Linked DNA regions of Homo sapiens. The protein of the gene in region 1 interacts with the protein of each later gene in a pairwise test. Each region holds a gene or a part of one and is shown in the gene's direction. Other genes may lie near its edges.

Region 1 (3,649 bases):
ACAGAGCGAGACTCTGTATCTAAAGAGTGCATTCAGTTGGAAATTCTAATGAATCCACACAGATAGAAAGCAGAGGTCTCCTGGTCATCTTCCCACTGTCTGCCAGTCTCAGGCCCCAGACATGCCACTATTGACCCTGTGGTTTGTGTTCTTAAGAGTTTTTAAAAATAATTTTAGAACCACATAAAACACACATATATACATATAGCTTTACCTAACAAAAATGTGTGGTCAGTTTTCATGAATGTTTACCCTTGCAGTGTTGTACAATTATTTGATTTGTAATGTGTTTCAGTTTCATTTATGATTATGTCAACAATAAATGACACTATGTAAAGAAAACCATAGGCACATATAGCAGTTGGGAAGCGTTTATTTGTGAGTGTAAAGATTTGGAAAAATGTTTAAGCTTTGTGTGTAGAAAACAAACAAAAAAAATAATAAAAATAAATTTTGTGTGCGACAGGCAAGAAGCTACCGGATGTTTCACGACGACAGCATGAAGTCTTTCTTCCGTAGACTGAGTTTCACTCCCGACGGATCTTTGCTTCTCACGCCAGGTGTGTTTCGTAGCTTTGGACTTAAAGGAATGATGGCCGAGTGGGGATGTCTGCTCCCGTTTTACGCTGCAGCTTATCAGCTCAGTGAATGCTGATTAGAGTGGGGGTCCCCGACTTACCTGCCCATTGGAACCTCCAGGAGAGCTTCAAAAAACACATTGGTGCCTATGTCCCATCCCTAGAGATTGTAGTGTATGTAATTGGTCTGGGTGGCCTGGCTTTTGGAATTTTAAGAAGATTTCCAAGTGATTGTAATGTGCAGAAAAGTTTGGGAGTAATGAGTTTAAAATGATAGGCATTTTCTCTTAGATAAATTTAACTTTTGGCTGGGCACAGTGGATCACACCTGTAATCCCAGCACTTTGGGAGGCTGAGGCGGGCGGATCACTTGAGGTCAAGAGTTCATGACCAGCCTGGCCAACATGGTGAAACACCCTCTCTATTAAAAATACAAAAATTAATGATGTGGTGGCGCATACCCTGTAATCCCAGCCACTTGGGAGACTGCGGCAGGAGAATCGCTTGAACCCAGGAGGCAGAGGGTGCAGTGAGCCGAGATCACACCACTGTACTCCAGCCTGGGCGACAGAGTGATATCTTATCTAAAAAAAAAAAAAAAAAAAAAAAAAGAAACTTTACTATTTAAACCCTTTCAATGAATGCTTTTTCATTCATTAACATGTGTATGGAAGCCATAGCGCTAAAGCCAAAGATAAAGCTCCTTTATTGTTTTTATTCTCCTCAATAAAGCGCATTTGTGACAGGATTAGACTCATGGACAAACTTGTGGAAGCAGCAGTGGTCAAAATCAAAAGGTCAGCCAAGTAGCAAGGACTAGATAGGTTTATTGTCCCTATGTCCCTAGGAAGGCAAGGGGCTCAGCCCAGCAAGATAAGGCTAGGCATTATTGTGGCCACAGTGTTCTCAGAGGAGAATGTCTGCTCATTGCCGTGGCTCCAGGACCATCCTGTGCATAGAGATGACAACATAGCCCAGGGTTGGGCCAAACGGGAGGGCACTGTCTTGGTTTGCCACTGAGTCCCATCCCAGCTGAGCCAGGGAGGGCCTGAGAAGGGCGTGAATCACACATGCAGCTGTGTGGGTGGGGCTTTAAAGAACACTGCGGAACATGTGCGAATGACACTTTGGCCCAAGAAGTCTCAGGACTAAGAATAAGTAGTTGTTTAGGTTATATTTACTAAAGTTAGTTATTAAAAGTTATTCACTAAACCCAGTAATAAATCCTTTTTTTTTTTTTTTTTTTTGAGACTGAGTTTTGCCCTGTTGCCCAGCTGGAGTGCAGTGGCACGATCTTGGCTCACCACTGCAGCCTCCGCCTCCCAGTTTCAAGCGATTCTCCTGCCTCAGCCTCCTGAGTAGCTGGGATTACAGGTGTGCGCCACCACTCCCAGCTAATTTTTGTATTTTTAGTAGAGACGGGGTTTCACCATGTTGGTCAGGCTGGTCTCAAACTCCTGACCTTGTGATCCGCCTGCCTTGGCCTCCGAAAGTGCTGGGATTACAGGCTTGAGCCACCACGCCCGGCCCTTTTTTTTTTTTTAAATTATTTATTTTATTTATTTATTAATTTATTTATTTTGAGATGGAGTTTCGCTCTTGTTACCCAGGCTGGAGTGCAATGGCACGATCTCGGCTCACAGCAACCTCCGCCTCCCGGGTTCAAGCCATTCTCCTGCCTCAGCCTCCGGAGTAGCTGGGATTACAGGCATGCGCCACCACGCCCAGCTAATTTTGTATTTTTAGTAGAGACGGGGTTTCTCCATGTTGGTCAGTCTGGTCTCGAACTCCGGACCTCAGGTGATCTGCCCACCTTGGCCTCCCAAAGTGCTGGGATTATAGGTGTGAGCCATTGCGCTGGCCTTTTTTTTTTTTTTTTTTTTTTTTTTTAAAAAGCAGAGTCTCGCTCTGTCACCCAGGCTGGAGTGCAGTGGCACCATCTTGGCTCACTGTAGCCTCCACCTCCTGGGTTCAAGCGATTCTCCTGCCTCAGCCTCCTGAGTAGCTGAGATTACAGGCGCCTGCCACCACAACCAGATAATTTTTGTATTTTTAGTAGAGATGGGGTTTCGCCATGTTGGCCAGGCTGGTCCCAAACTCCTGACCTCAGGTGATCTGCCCACCTTGGCCTCCCAAAGTGTTGGGATTACAGGTTACAGGTGTGAGCCACTGCGCCCAGCCCCAGTAGCAAATCCTTTACTATTTGGCCACTCTAAAAATATTTTCAATTAAAATCAAGTAGCAAATGGATGTCTGTTATCAACGTTATTGTTCTTTGTGGTGTTAGTAAGTGTGGGAAAAACAGGAAAATGAAATTACAAAGATTGGAAAAGAACAGATAAAAAACTGCAATAGGATTGTATTTCTAGAAAATCCAAGAGATTTTAAAAATAGTATTAGAATTTTTAAAATAATTTGATAAGATGGCTGGATATTATAAAATATATAAAAATTCCTATCTTTCGTCTATATTGGCAGTGAGTACTTAGAAATGGAAGGAGGAGAAATATTTCATTCAGAGTAGTGCAAAACCTGCAAAATACATAGAGTAAATTTATTTATTTATTTATTTTTTGAGACAGGGTCTCACTCTGTCACCCAGGCTGGAGTACAGTGGTGTGATCATGGCCCACTGCATCAGCCTTGATCTCCTGAGTTCAGGGAATCCTCCCACCTCAGCCTCCCTACTAGCTGGGACCACAGGCGTGTAGCACCATGCCTGGCTAATTTTCTTATTTTTTTGTAGAGACATGGTCTTGCTATGTTGCCCAGGCTGGTCTTAAACTCCTGGGCTCAAGCACCCCTTCCGCCTCGGCCTCCCAAAGAGCTGGGATTACAGGTGTGAGCCACCACACCCAGGCAGAAGTAAATTTAATGAGAAAGGGGCAGGACCTTTATGGAGAAGTCTAGAAGGTCTTACTGAAGGTTATAAAGCAAGTTCTGAACAAATGGAAAGATATGTCGTGTTCTAACAATTAACATACTAATTTCATTTCCAATTAGAATTGCATTAAAGTTTTTTTTTAATTGGATGAAATCTCAGCTTTGTTTAGTAGAATAAATGCTGAAGA
Region 2 (4,257 bases), on another chromosome or scaffold:
CCAGTTCCCATCCAGCACCGAAGAAAATCAGCTCCTGGGGCTGGTGGTTGGAGGTGGGTCTGTCCACTGTGGGGGCCAAAGTGTTCCCCTGCTGGAGACAGTTTGCAAGTAAGAACCTAAGGATGGGGACAGCATCCTGTGCTTGGGCATTGACCAGCCAAAGCTCACATTTAGAAAGCCCTCAGTGCTTCTGTGGTTTCACCTGGGCATCGACGACATTAGGGAAGCCTTTGTGACCACAAGGGCAGGGCTTGTGCCCTGAGTGGCGAGGTGGTGACCTGAGGCCAGTGTGATGTGGTTGGATCTCAGCGTGTACTGAATGCCAGTCTGGCCGGCACACTCGAACGCTAAGAGAATGGTCCAATTTGATGATCTTATTTCTATTTCGATCAGGTTTTGACTTTTTGTAGATGAAAACTACCAGGGAAAAGGGGAAGCAGGTACCCAATAAAGTTTAGAAAGATCCAGTCTGTGAAACCCTTAGAGATGGGCTGAAAGTTAAGTCCACCAACCCTTGGGCTTAATCAGGACGGAAGAGGAGGGGGTGTGGGGGGCAGAGCGTAAAACAAGCCCCAGCCCTACTCCCGGCCCCCCAGCCCAGTCTTCCCAATCCCAGAGGCCCCGGCGGCCTGTGCTCCTCACCACCCTGGTCAGGGGAATAGAAGGAAATGCAATTTCCGCCTGTCTGCCCGACTTCCAAAAACTGCCTCCTCCTGCCCAGGCCTCTCCCACCACCACCTTCCCTCCAAAGATAACCGTGTCCATGCCATCCGTGGCATCATCTCGAGTTTTCATTTTTGGATGAAGTGACATTTAGCTTTAACAAGACATTTCCAAAGCGCCTAGTCTCCTCCAAAATGCTAACTTTAAAAGTTGGGCATTGTAGGCGAAAAATCCCAAAAAAAAAAAAAGACAAAAAAAAAAGGCTGGCGAGAGAAAGACATTTGGCTATGCATAAATGTGCACTTCCCCCATGCCCCCGTTCTTAAACTCTTAAGATGCCTTTGAGTTGCTTTTCATGAATCCTTTTAGTTTACCCGATAATGTTAAGAAAGCATTAGTCTACGTTACTGTAATTTCTGTAGTGTTTACGCTTTAATTTCTACCACAAAATATGCTATATGCTATGTATCAAGCTTTCTGTAATCAGAAAGAAAAGGTGCCTTATATCCCAATGTCACGGCTACATCCCTATGGAAATTAATCAGAAGCACAGTGTGTACGGAAGCATTGGGACTTCTGCTGGTGAAACAAGAGACCATTCAGCAAGACACATTGAAGTGGCACGGAGCTGCTTTTGTTTTATAATTCTTTTTTCCCCCCTTTTCCTTCTTCTTTTTTATTATTTTATTATTTTTTTTGTACTTTGCTTTAAACGGAAAGCACTTAAATAGATGACTATGTGTAAAAGCTCTGTGCAATTGAAATCATTTTTCTTCATTTTAAAAAAATAACGTATTGCACACCAAATGAACTCAAAGTAAGCTTTAGACCAGGACGATTCAGGTTATGAATGAGTTTGTTCACTGTAGTTCCGTTTGTTCATGAACCGAAGGGAAAACAGGCCTCCCCGACTCCCTCCAGTCTCCCAGCCTGCCTCTTGGTGACCACTGTGCTGGGCGTGCAGGGCCCGCGGGCTCTGGCCGGAGCCGCTGGCCTGACGAGGCAGGATAGGGAGTATCCGTGATTCAGAAGCTGAGACCCTTCCCCAGTGTCTGAGGCCACAGCCATCCCTTCCAGCACTTAATCTTGTCTTGTTGAAATGGACTGACTGCTACTGACCTGCCGGCGTGCGTGAGGGTGATTATAAAAGGATGTTTCCTTGAGAAAAAAAAAATTATTTCTATCCTCTTCTATTTATTATTAGGTTAATCATTTAAGTACTTATCAGGAGTGTATTGTTATTTTGTGTTTTGTTGTCATAAATGCTTTTTGCTGTCACTCTAGTGGTTACTATCCTCTGCCTTCCTCTCCTCCCCTACTCCCCCAGAGAACCAAGGCGTCTGGGGGATTGACTGGGGGGCAGAGGGGGTTTCCCCAGCAAAATCAAACACCTGTCTCCAGAGTAGCCACTCAAAAACTGGTGGTCTCTATGTGTCTAACTTTTTAAATGAGAGTGTTTATGAACAAAAAAATTTACCAACGTGTGAGGGAGTTGCTGAGTTGAAGAATGCTCGCTTGAGGAGCTTCAGAGGAATCTTAGCAAAGCCAAGTTCAGTTCCCCAAAGCCTCCTAGAGCCTCTGGTAAGACTTCTGGGTTCATGAAGTTTCGGCGAGCCGTGGTCAGAGAGGGCGCGGTGGCCTGGCCAAGACTTTACCTCCAAGCGAGAGAGTGATTTCTTGCAAGGCCCGCATGGGTTGATACGTTTTGGTTGGTTTTTTGTTGTTGTTTTTCTTGCGTACAAAGTTGGTCAAAACCATCTTTCAAAGCAACAGTGTTTTGTAGTACCAGGCTGTGGCTTGAGGGCTCACCTAGGAGATCATAGGCAGAGGGCCCCTTTCCCCTATAGGTGGTTCAACGTGGAGGAAGGTTGGGTGTGGAGATTGCTTGCTGTGGCCCCAAGCTCAGCCAGCAGGACACCCAGTTGTTGCCAATCAGGTGTGAAGGTGAGGCGCCCTGCCTTGATCCCATGGGCCCAGCAGAAGGAAACTTACCCCAGGCCAAGGCAAGGGCCCTGCTCACCCCAAGGTAGGCTGGGAAGAGCATCTCTTTCCATATCATCACCTCCCCTTCTCCAAGATTGCCGGGGGCCCTGATTTTGTTCTCTCTTTGAAAGAAACCCTCCACCGAAACAATGGTCCCCATCTCCCCAGAAGCCTTTTTTTTTTTCATTTTTCTCTAATTAGTCTATGCATTTCTCTCTCTCAAACCATCTTCTGCCTCTTCCCTTGAGAAAACGGGCATCTCACGTACCCCCATCTGAGACCTCTTGGAAAAAAAAAATCCCGTGTATTCTGGAGATGTGAGAATTCACCCAAAATTCTTAAAACATTGGAGAATAGCTTGTTATAAAATAAAAGTGGGGGTAAAAAGAAGGTGGTTTTCCCCACATCCCTTTGCATTGAATAAGAGACCTAGTTCTTTGCGTTTGTGCAATAACTCTTTGCTGCTTGCCTTGAGAGCGGGTAGCACCACGCTCCTGTCCAGACTACTAACAGCACAAGACGCACTCACAGGGTGGCGGAATCTTCCGGAAAACTCTCTATAAGCTCAGCTCCCCCCACCCCACCCCCACTCTAGCGTTTTGTCACGTCTTACATTTTAGCAGTATTTTATATTTTCTGTAACGCACCAAGTCTTAGATCTTTCTAGAGCTTGTTTGTTCATCCTCACAATCACAGATTTTTTTCTCCAATCCTCACAGAGACCCAATTGACCAAAAAAGAAAAAAGGAAAAAAAAAAAGTCGTCTTTTTTTTTTTTTTTTGTACAAATCGCTTTGAGATGCCTCTGGTGTGTTGCTGTGTGACATCTCTCTGGTAACATTTTATTTCTTGCTATTTGTTTTTCTACATTAAGAGTCAAAGTTGACCTGGCTGGCGTGGGGGTGGGGGAGGCACCCGTCGGCCCCTTGGTGTTGTCCCTCTGTCTTTGGTTAGCCATACGATGTTTGTTCTCAGCACTGTACAACGGTCCCTATATAATACGGAGAAGCAATATCACTGTATGAGACTCACACCATGTATTATTATTCACTAGCACCCTAGGTGTGATAATTGAAGTAAATATCTTTTATACAAACACAAGAATGTGTGGGTTGTTTTTATTTAAAGTGCTCTGGCCTGAGGACGAGCAGCAAACACTGTCATTCGAGGTCCAAAGGGCACCTCAAGAATCGCCGTTCCCGAGGTCGTCCCCTTTGCACCTGTCCGCAGGTCCTCGGGCGTGTGGCTTCCGGGCACACAGAAAACCGTGTGGTTCTAGGATACATGGGGATCTCGGGCACTGCTCTGTCAATCTGCATCTGGTTCACAGGAAGGGCTTCGCCAGGGCCTGCGTTCCTACTTGCTGTTGTCACCAGCACTGTTTGCCTACCCTTGAACCAAGCCCTTACCCTCCCTGGCGTCCGCTTCCTTTTCTGTAAAATGGAGACACCATCTCCTGTCATATAGGCTTGCTGTGGGGAACCAGGAATGGTGGCCAGTGCTGGTGCGGCACTGGGCTGGTGGTGGCAGCCCCAATCGATGGCACTTGGGCGACCAGGACTACGGCCAGTCTCCTCTGCCGTGTGGCCTGCAGCTGGTCAGTGGCGTGGCC
Region 3 (3,649 bases), on another chromosome or scaffold:
GCTGGGATTATAGGCGTAAGCCACTGTGCCCAGCCAAGAAGATGACTCTCAAGAAGGGGAGATGGCCCTAGTTCAGAGCAGTAACATGCCATCCAGTGAAGGAGGAGAGAGATAGAAGAACAGGAGCTTCTGGGGTGGGGAGGGAGACTACTGACCATAGCCTTCTCCTCTGGCTTGAAAGGTTATGTAGCCCACCACCTGGGACCTCTCCTGACACAGCCATGCCTGGAACATTCTCATAGCCTTCCCTACTGTGAATGTCAGTGTCATCTTTCCCAGGACTCATAGAGATGGCCCGAGTTGAGGCAGAACTAGGACTCAGTGACCGCCTTTCCCAGCAAGCCTGGTGGTGTTCCACCTATATCTCCCTCAGTGAATGTGCTGGTGCCTCCTTCCGAAACCTGACTGTCAGGTGTGACCTGTAAGATGAGGGTTTGGTCTAGGTGATCGGACGTTTCCAAATCTAAAGTTCAGTGTTTTCTTGCTCTGATTTTGTTTCATGGGTTCAAGTGCTTCTCTTGGTTGGCCTCTGTGTTCAAGCTTCCTGAGGGGACGGTGTTTCACTCACCATAGGTAAATGATAAATGTGTGCTTGGTAACTGAAAAGTTGTCCAGAAACACTTGAAATACTTAGAACCCTAAGTTGTGACAGGGTTGCTTCTCAGTCTTCTCGTTGTGGGGACAGTCCTGGATGAACAGGAGTGGGTTTGCCATTCCAGGAGTCCGTGACGTTCAGGGATGTGGCCGTGTTCTTCAGCCAGGACGAGTGGTTGCACCTGGACTCTGCCCAGAGAGCCTTGTACCGGGAGGTGATGCTGGAGAACTACAGCATCCTGGTCTCACTGGGTAAGGAACTTTCCTCCTGATGCAGAATCTGCCAGGAGAGCACCTTAGCACCCTCAGGGGGCACATTTGGAGGGCTTGGCCAGGTCGGCTCACAGGTGGGCTCCAAGAGTGGCCATTGCCATTCCCCTTGGTTGTATGGAGAGACCTTGGCTTAGTAGAGTTGATGAAGGGGTCTTTTCTCTGCTTTTCCTGTCTTCTGCCCACTGAGCTCTGTTCCCTGAGCCCCACAGGGTGTTCCTGCTGAGAGGAGTGCACAACCAGAGCCCTGACTTTCTTCCTGGGACCATCTCCTGGTTGTCCTCTAGGAGCCCAGTTTGAAGCCTCTCAGAACAAACCTCCTCCTTCCCTGTACTGCCCCTCTGCCCTGGGCACTCTGGGGCTGGACCCGCCTGCTACGATGGCCGCTCACGTTTCTTTCTTGTTCATGAACAGGGATTCTCTTTTCCAAGCCAAAGGTCATCTCCCAGTTAGAGCAAGGAGAAGACCCCTGGATGGTGGAGAGTGGAGTTCCCCAAGGCGCACATCTCGGTGAGTGACAGAGTAATTGGGAGATGGGCATAACATTTTCCCACTGCCAGGGCACAGCGAGGAGGCTGCGCTCAAGGGTCTCCTTGATGTGCCAGGCCAGGGGGAAATGCTGGGAAGGTAGATCCTTTCTCTTTTGATTACTTGATCCATCATGTTCAGAGGAGGGTTGAATTCTCCCAATATGGGTTGCACTGTTTTCAGATATCTTGTAATTTGCAGAATATGTAATACAGTATATCATGTGTAAAGGTTTATAATTCTTTTATCTTCCTTTATCCTTGCTTTTACTGGATTGATTCTTTTCCTAAATTATTTTCCTTAGTGGCTTGAACATTACATTGTTTTTTTTTAATCACTACAATACATTCCTCATAGTTTCATCTTGGAACCATCTTTTGCTTTGATTTCTTTGGTGTACAACTTAATTATACATGGTTCAAAAGGGGGAAAAAAGCAGATATATGTGTATGTATTTACATACATGAAAGAGGGAAAGAAGGTGTGACAAACGGTAACAGTTACGGAATGTGAGTGGGCTTCCGGATACTCATCACGCTATTCTTCTCTTTTCTGTGAAAATTTAGAAAATAATGCATCCCAGATCCCAGCTCCTAAGGCATGTCACTTTTTCCCTATACGCCCTTGGATGACTGCATTATCAGCTTCCGCATTCATTCTCCTGTGAATTCTGTCTATGCTTCTGGCAGTAGAGGAGGCCTCTGTTGAGCTTTACCACGTGTCTGGTGTTTTTTTCTCACCTGGGCAGGGCGTGGGCTTTCTGGGCCAGTTCACTTTTGCGTTTCCATTCGTGAACTCTGTCTTCACATTTTTCCCTTTGGCTCGACTAGAATATTTTCTTGGGTAACGGTTTTCAAAAAAGGTTCATGTGTGCAATATCTGTACGTGTCAAAAATCAGTTGTTTTTTTCTCTCCTCTGAGATTTGTTGTTTTGGATCTAGAATTCTGGCATCTGTTTTTTTTTTTTTTTTTCCTCTCTGCATTGTCCAAACTGCTCCACTGTCTTTGGGCATGGAGTGCTGCTGACAAATAATCCCATTAGTCAGATTCTATTTCCTGTATAGGTAACTTGTTTTTTCTTTTCTGTCTTCTCTTTGGAATCTTACAGGACATCATCTTTATCTTTGGAATTCAGACTTTTCATTAGGTTATATGAAAGAGTATTTTTTTTTCTTTGTTCTTTGGCACTTTACTGGCCTCTTTGCTTTGAAGATTCAGTCCTTCCTTTCATTTCAGGGATCTTTTGTTTCTGCCACATTCCACCAACAATGTGAGGCAATTGACTGCAAGAGTAGTGATACAATAAAATAGAAATTCAATCAGACATCTAGAAAATAAATAGATCTGTAGTAAGGACCAGAATGGTAGCTATAAATGAGTTTCAAATTTCGCTCTGAGCTTTCTGGTTGGCAAATAAATCATTGGTATCACATTGTCAGTGTTGTTTTACAAGCATTTTTAAAAATTAATTATTTTAAATTTGTACAAATTCTACATGCTGTTGTAAAAATAGGAGCAAAAAAAAGTCACCTGGAATTTTACCAACTATGATCAATTATTGTTGTTTATTACCCATTCAAACTGCATATTTGCTTAAATGTGTTTGTGTGTGAGAGACAGACACAGTGAGAGAGAGATACAGAAAGATTGATTATACAGTTTGTTCTTGATCCTGTTTTAATTGTGAATGTCATTCAGTTATTCAGCCCTCAGTGAATAGAGGCCTACCTCATTGAGAGGACTATATTGTATGTTAAGCCAATTAAACAGTCTTCCTTTTGGAAATTTTAGTTACCAGTTTTTCTCTGTTACTAATATTGCTAAGATGGTTATGGGAATACAAAGCCATAATATAAAGAGGCAAAGGTACCAAGAGTAAATCATCACAGTACAAAGACATGAGTATTGTGATTGAAAAGGCCAGGCATGTGGATTAAAAATCCACAAGGGATTTTTTGAAGCACTATTCAACTTCATTAAATTAAAATCAATGAAATTCCAACGAAGCACAAGTTACCATTTTTCCCTTATTACCAAGGATTAAGAAATAGATACCCAATGTGTTGCCACTGCTGTGAGTGATAAGCAGTATCGTTAGTGGGACTGCAACTGGTAGTCTTTCTGAGGATGGTCTGGTTTTATTAAAATCAATTCCAAGTGTAGAAATGTTAAGATAATTTCTGCACAGATAACTGTGCAGAGTTACAAAGATGTTGTAAAAGAATGTTTGTTATAACATGAGGCATCACTGCCACAA

The links.
Region 2: the proteins of CHAF1B (region 1) and CUX1 interact in a two-hybrid assay, tested with the Homo sapiens proteins (one large-scale study listed by BioGRID and IntAct).
Region 3: the proteins of CHAF1B (region 1) and ZNF879 interact in a two-hybrid assay, tested with the Homo sapiens proteins (one large-scale study listed by BioGRID and IntAct).

Annotation. Positions count from the first base shown.
Region 1 is NC_000021.9:36,402,292-36,405,940, forward strand, and holds part of CHAF1B (chromatin assembly factor 1 subunit B), read left to right. Parts: intron 1-466; coding exon 467-560; intron 561-3,649. UniProt on the Homo sapiens protein: Acts as a component of the histone chaperone complex chromatin assembly factor 1 (CAF-1), which assembles histone octamers onto DNA during replication and repair.
Region 2 is NC_000007.14:102,254,488-102,258,744, forward strand, and holds the end of CUX1 (Homeobox protein cut-like 1), read left to right. Parts: 3' UTR 1-3,746; downstream 3,747-4,257. UniProt on the Homo sapiens protein: May be involved in intra-Golgi retrograde transport.
Region 3 is NC_000005.10:179,026,754-179,030,402, forward strand, and holds part of ZNF879 (zinc finger protein 879), read left to right. Parts: intron 1-719; coding exon 720-846; intron 847-1,278; coding exon 1,279-1,374; intron 1,375-3,649.